Linked DNA regions of Homo sapiens. The protein of the gene in region 1 interacts with the protein of each later gene in a pairwise test. Each region holds a gene or a part of one and is shown in the gene's direction. Other genes may lie near its edges.

What was found.
Region 2: the proteins of CEP83 (region 1) and EHHADH interact in binary tests that used the Homo sapiens proteins (3 or more experiments, as listed by UniProt).

Annotation. Positions count from the first base shown.
Region 1 is NC_000012.12:94,372,703-94,376,534, reverse strand, and holds part of CEP83 (centrosomal protein of 83 kDa), read left to right. Parts: intron 1-517; coding exon 518-649; intron 650-3,832. UniProt on the Homo sapiens protein: Component of the distal appendage region of the centriole involved in the initiation of primary cilium assembly.
Region 2 is NC_000003.12:185,243,765-185,247,596, reverse strand, and holds part of EHHADH (peroxisomal bifunctional enzyme), read left to right. Parts: intron 1-3,832. UniProt on the Homo sapiens protein: Peroxisomal trifunctional enzyme possessing 2-enoyl-CoA hydratase, 3-hydroxyacyl-CoA dehydrogenase, and delta 3, delta 2-enoyl-CoA isomerase activities. Catalyzes two of the four reactions of the long chain fatty acids peroxisomal beta-oxidation pathway.

The DNA of each region.
Region 1 (3,832 bases):
GAGCCTCTTTGCTCGTACTTAAAAAGTCTGCAGATGAGCTGAGGATTTTGAAATCATATCTTTCCCTGTTTCTTTTTTTAAAATCATTGATTTTAGATTTTCAATTTTTACTTGTTACTATCAATGAGCCCTGTCTTCTAGTTTCTAATATGCTTTTTCTTATCTGTTATAGACTGGAAACTTCCAAAATGTTTGAAATAAGTCAGTGTTAAGAGTAAATAGACATCAAATGAATGCCTTAGGTACTTTCTGTCGTGAGAGAAGTGTATAAACTTTATTTTATTGATGGTCATTCATATGTTGTTTGTCTAGATGCCTTTGTTGCATATTTCCTGGAACACTATCTTTCGTTTGAATTCTGCCAATTAGTTTGAGAAAATTTTTGTTACATTGGTATATGTTAAGTTGAGGTTTTGAATAATTTTAGTATAATTATAAATGTATTTTAAATAGTGCTTATTTGATTTTGAAATACTTGAAAAATGATGAATTTTAAACTATTTTGTTTGTATGAAAGGCTGAAAAACAATCAGCTAATTTACGGGCAGAACGTTTGGAAAAAGAGCTACAATCAAGCAGTGAACAAAATACCTTTTTAATTAATAAATTGCATAAAGCTGAACGAGAAATAAATACATTGTCCAGTAAAGTAAGTTGTTTTATGTTTCTGTTTCATTCTTTAGAATGTTTGTTAGTATATAATGATAAATTTTATTTTTAATAATTGATTTCTTTATACTGAAATGTTTTATTATATCATTCTGCCTTCTAAGAAATAAATACATTGATCAGTAGAGTATGTTATCTTATGCCTCTATTTCATTCTTTAGAATGCTTGATACTGTACAGTGACAAATTTTGTGTTTAGTTCTCTGTATTGAAATATTTTTAATCCTTTATCATTCTACCTTCCAAATACATGCAGAATCTGATCAATTCTTATGACATCCACTGTGACTATTCCAGTCCAAGCCATGATTTTTCTAGGCTCCATTTCTGTGCTAGGTTGCTAACTGGTCTTTCTGCTTTCTACCCATTCAGAGCTCTGTATGATCTGGATCCTGCAGTCTTTTCACAGCCATGACCTGTATTTTTCCTCCTGTTCACTTTGCTCCCTTTGGCCTTCTCACTCTTTGAGCAAACTCACATCTTGCTCAGGGTTTCTGCACTTGTCTGAGTTTGGCTCAGTCTTCCCTCACGTATCCACATAACTTGCTTCTTCACCACCTAGATGTTGCCTAACCAGGGAGGCTTTCCTTGTCTTCACATTGTAAAACAGCATCTTCCTTCTTCCTCTGTCTTTCTCTCTGTCTTCCTTACCTGCTTCATAGCTCTTAATACTATCTGATATAGTTATTTGGTTTTTATTTTTTGGTCTCTCCTTTTCTTTCCCACCACCTTCCCCTCAACCCAATGTAAGCTCCAAGAGAGCAGGGACATTGTTTTCATCACTACTGCTTTTCCAGCTTCTAGAATGGTGCCGGCACATAGTAGGTACTCAAATATTTCTTCAATGAATAAATTAGTAGTAGCAGCATGATCTACATTTATATTCTCCTTAACAGACTGGATTCAAATTCTGATTTTTTCATTACTAAAAAAAGCTGTGTGACCTTGGGCAGTTCACTGTCTCTCTGAAACTTAAGTGCCTTTGTCTATGCAATGGGACTAATACCTACATTACAGAGTTGTGGCAAAAATTAAATGTAGCTGATGATGAAAATGATAATAGCAGTGATTATACACTGGTGATATCCTTAAATAAGAAAATATTGTAACATAAAGAATACAGAATTTTTAGTCCATTGACTAGTCTGTGTCTCACTGTCTCAATAACTATGTGTAACCTAAGGCAAGTTACCTAATATCATTAGGATCCAATTTCCTTATATCTGTAAGAACCCTTCCAGCCTACTAAGACTGTGTAAGAACTACTAGGAAATAATTTGATTGCCTCCTGATTAACTGTAAGTAGATTATATATTCAACAGATACACATTGAAAGCTTATAACTATAGAGTATACAAAAAAATAGATACAAAACACAAGTAAATTCAGGATATGGGGAGTTTCCATGCTTTTCTTCCAATTCCAGTATAAATTATTTTCAATTTTGTGAAATAATATTGAGTACGTAGTATTTGCAGCACATTGTTCTTGACCTGAGTAGCCAGACTACACTGCTGGAATAATTGGAACCACAGATGTCGCAATAGGACATGGGATGTGCTGGCTTCTGCTGTGGCTTCTCTCTTGGGGGGGCCACCAAGTATAATACTTTTCATGCAGTACATTTTACCTGAGCTCCCTAGCTCACCTGTGTGCTGACCCTGATTTTTCTTCTTTTTTTCCATATATATATACTCTTCCCTATTGCTCTTTCCTCTTAGAGTTAGAGCCTAGGTGATTTCTCCTACTCCGCTGAAGAAAGAACAGCAATCTAGTATAGTATTTATTTCTCTGTGCTTGTTTATTAATACACATTGCTAAGAGTTGCCTGTCTTTTTAAAGGCACACTTGCCTTATTTTGCATATAAATGGAGTATTAAATACCATCCTTCAACTTTAAACAAACCAAGTTTCATTTGAAGTCTTGTATGTAAAGATTCCATTGGAAGGGTAGATTTTAAAATAATATTTCAAACATGACTGCCACAGTTTTCTTTGCAACTTGAAGTTTTCATCAACATTTTGCAATTCTAGCAAATGGTTGTTTGCAGTGCAAAGGAACACCTGGGGTGTGTTTGTCTTAGTTACTCAAATTCATAAATGTTTGTCAGATTTTAGAACAAAGTTATGTCAGTGTGAGTATCAGTGTCTTGGATTAAAAGGTATTACCAAAGATGGCCTGAAAATGATGACCTTAAAGAGATTTCACATTCAGTGAGGTAAATTCTTCTAGTTCCCTCATAAGGTTTTTCATTTTCAGAATGCCAATAAAAGGTAGTTTTAAGAAAGCCACCCAACAGAGTTGTCCTTATTTACCTAAATTAATTGGGTAATTACATCTCAGAACTTTGAAAAAGATCAAGATTTAAGTACCATCTCTTTGGAATCTGTATCCAGAGCTTCTTAGGTAATACATATTGTCAATTATATTTCCATTTCTTGCTTATTTATGCTGTGCTCTTGTGTGTCTTTCTGTGAGTATGTGTACTTTAACAGATACTGACCCCCTGTAAAATGCCCAGTTTTGCCAGTTTTGACATTTATTAAAGTTTTGTTAGTAATATCTGAATACTTCCATTGTGTCAAAACATAAAGCAAATTCACAACATAAAGGCCAGAATCTATATGGCAAACATTCTGTGAAGAACAGGGTGACTTGGTCCAGTGGAGCTTTAGGAGACCATGAATTGCTTGAAATTTTATGCAACATTTTAACATGAGCATTTTATTTAAAAAAAAAATCCCTAATTTTCCTAGGATTTGGGACTTGATCACAAAGAAGATTAAGAACCAAGGATCTAGGGGCAGAAAGAAACTTTACTGTAACATTTGGAATTTGGTTCAGATTACTCATAGAAAAGTGCTATTATTTGTCATTACTGGGTAATACATTTTCATACGTTAAGTAAAATTCCTTTTAGTATATTTTTAGGAAATTAACAGTGTTCATATAAGTGATGCATCAGTGATGTTAGGATAATAGAAATAAGGCAATAAAGAAAAACTTTAGATCCATAAATGAGTACATTTGAATGCAGAGAGGACAGGTAAATTGCTTGAGCATATACCACTGGTTTAACAGCAAAAGTAGGCCTGAAGACAGACCTCACTTGTTGCTTGACTTCCTATTCGGTGTTCTTTCAGTTTCAATAATTGTAGTTTA
Region 2 (3,832 bases), on another chromosome or scaffold:
CCTGTTATATGCCAGTACCATGTAGGTTATTTATTAAATAATAATAATAAAAATAATAGTATTTTTAAACATGTTATATGTTAATTCTCAGTTAGTCCTACAATCCTCATTTACAGGTAAGAAGAGATTTTGAGCCTGGGAGAGATTAATATAATGTCCCAAACCTTAACCAGTTATTAAATGGCTTACTCACTGTTTGGAAATTTAAGGTTTGTCACCCAAGATGATGACGATGATGCATGGGAAGAGTGCTCAGAATGATAAAGAACTTGATATTTCTTTGTAAGAAAGAAGGTAGATGAGAGAATGTAATTAGAGTTTGGAGGCAGAAAAAATTATTCTTCTAAAAAAGTATTAGGGATTATGAAACTTGACTTAATACATTTACATAGAACAATGCACCCCAAAATGGGAGAATATACATTCTTCTGAAATACATCTGGAACATTTACAAAAATTGACCAGATACTGAATTATAAAATCTTATCTAAATAAATTTCATTAAGAATACATTATCTGACAACAATGCAATTAAGCTAGAAATCAATAACAAAAATATAACTAGTAATTCTCATATGTTTGGAAGTTAATTTCCAATATCCTCTGAGTAAAAACAGAAATAATGGAATTTAGAAAAAATTTGGAACTGAATGGCAATGAAAACATAATATAAAACTTGAGGGATGCAGCTAAAGTAAAACTTATCAGAAAATTTATAGCTTTAAAAATATATATTAGAAAAGAAAAATGGCTGAAATATAATGAGTTAAGTATTTATGTAAAGGAACTGACAAACTAACCGTAAAATACACCCTAATCAAGTAGAAGAAAGGAAATAATAAAGAGGAGAAATTAATGAAATAGAAAACATTTGAATCAAGAGGAACAACAATGTTAGTTTTTTGAGACTAATACAATTGACAAACTCTGGAGAGATTGAAGGAGAAGAGAAGGCACCAAGCAATGCATATAAAGAATGATGAAAGGGATATCATTGCAGATACTGTAGCCTTTAAGAAAGATAATGGCCCTTTGGCTGATGCAAGAGCCTAGTGCGGTGGTGGGAGAGGTATCAGCAGGAGCAGCGCTGCCACGGGGCCTGGGGGCTGACCTGTCTGACTTCCCATCCATGCGGAGCCCACTGGAATCGCATCCATATCTGGAGATGAGATGATTTTTGATCCTACTGTGAGCAAGAAGAAAAGAAGAAGAAGAAGCCTTTTATGTTAGATGAGGAAGGGGATACTCAAACAGGAAACGCAGCCCTCAGAAACAAAAGTCTGGAGCCAGAGCCAACTGAGGACAAAGATTTGGAAGCTGACAATGAGGACAGTAGGAAAAACGATGCTTCTGATGATCTAGATGACTTGAACTTCTTTAATCAAAAGAAAAAGAAAAAAAAACAAAAAAGATATTTGATATTGATGAAGCTGAAGAAGTTGTAAAGGATCTTAAGATTGAAAGTGATGTTCAAGAACCAGCTGAACCAGAGGATGACCTTGACATTATGCTTGGAATAAAAAGAAGAAAAAGAAGAATGTCAAGTTCCCAGATGAGGATGAACTACTAGAGAAAGATGAAGCTCTAGAAGATGAAGATAGCAAAAAAGATGATGGTATCTCATTCAGTAATCAGACAGGCCCTGCTTGGGCAGGCTCAGAAGGAGACTACACATAAGAGGAGCTGCTGAATTGTGTGTTCAACATCATGAGGGAAAAGAATCCAGATATGGTTGCTGGGGAGAAAAAGAAATTCGTTATGCAACCTCCACAGGTCGTCTGAGTAGGAACCAAGAAAACTTCTTCTGTCAACTTTACAGATATCTGTAAACTATTATATTGTCAGCACACTTGCATTTTTGTTGGTTGAATTGGGTACAAGTGGTTCTATAGATGGTAATAACCAACTTGTAAAGGAAGATTCCAACAAAAACAGATAGAAAATGTCTTAAGATTTATCAAGGAGTATGTCACTTGTCACACATGCTGATCACTGGACACAATCCTGCAGAAGGACATGCAACTCTTATTTCCTACAGTGTGAAACTTGTCATTCTAGATGTTCTGTTGCCAGTATCAAAACTGGCTTCCAGACTGTCATGGGCAAGCGAGCACAGCCCTGTGCCAAAGCTAACTAATTTGCTAATCACTGATTTTTCAAAGCGTGTTGTGGATATGTGGCTAAACCAGTTTGCCATCAGAGTGGATATACCATTGTATTAAAAGCAAGATAAAAAAGCTGCCAAGTTCTTTGGCTAGTGGCTGGTTGGTGTGAAATCCTTGCAAGATGCTGATGCTCAAGCTGTTGACATATGTATAGACTACTTTAACAACTGTCAGAGAAACATGATATGGGGTAAAGAGGTGCTTTTTTAAAATCGTTCATAGACTTCTGTAAAATACAAGATAAATTAAAGTTATTGTAACAGTGAAAAAAGAAAGATAATGAAAATATTATGAACATGTAAAAAAAATAGCTTCTCAAAATTAACTCAAGAAGAAATAGAAAACCCAAATAGTTCTGTAATCATTAAAGAAATTCAATCAGTAATCAGAAATCTCACCAAGTAAATACTTGACCCTGAAGACTCCACTGGCAAGGTCTACTGTAAAGTCAAGGAAAATATTCCAATTTTACATAAACATTTCAGAGAATCAAAAAAGTGGGGCCACTTTCTCTATTAGTTTCTTAGAGCACCATAACAAATTGCCACAAACCAAGTGGCTTAAAACAACAGAAATCTATTCTCTCATTGCTCTGGAGGATAGAAGTTTGTAATCAAGATATCAGCAGGGTCATTCTTCTTCTGTTTTCTTTAGGGAAGAATCCTTCCTTGCCTCTTCTAGCTTCTTATGGTTTCTAGCAATCCTTGGCCTATGGATGCATCACTCCAGTCTCACTTTAATCACATGGCTTTCTTTCCTCCATGTCTAAATTTTCCTGATCTTCTATAGGCCCACCCTAACTCAGCATGACCTCATCTTAATTTGATAACATCTGCGAAGACCTTCTTTCCAAATGTCACACTCACAGCTTCTGGGTAAACACTATTCAACTCAGTACACTTCCCAACTCATTTTTTGAGGCAGCATACCCTTGATACTAACACCTGACAAGGACAGTATGGAAAAGAAAAATTACAGGCTAATTTCATTTATAAATGTAGATATAAAAATCGTAGTGTAAATTGAGACAACAAAGCAACTAGGTAACAATATTATGACGGAAACAAACCCTCATATATCAATATTAACCCTGAACATAAATGGCCTAAATCCTCCACTTAAACATATAGACAGGCAAATTGGATTAAAAAACAAAACCTGATCGTTTTCTGCCCACAAGTGACACCCTTTGGTAAAAACACCCACAAACTCAATGGAGTGGAAAAAGATACACTGTGCAAACACAAAACAAAAATGAGCAGTAGTAGCTATATTTACATCAGATAAAGCAGATTTTAAATCAACAACAGTAAAAAGACAAAGAATGTATTATATAATAATAAAGGGTTCAATACAAGGAGAAGATATAGCTGTCTTAAATATATATGCATCCCAAAATGGACAACTCAGATTTATAAAACAAATACTACTCAACCTAATAAAAGAGATAGACAGCTATACAATAATAAGGGAGGACTTCAAAACCCCGCTGACAGCACTAGACAGATGATTAAGGCAGAAAATCAACAAAGAAACTATGGACTTAAACTAGACTTTAGACCAAATGGACCTAATAGACACACTTATAGAACATTCTATGCAATAACCGCAAAATACACATTTTTCTATTTGTGCATGGGACATTCTGTGCATGGAACGTTCTCCAA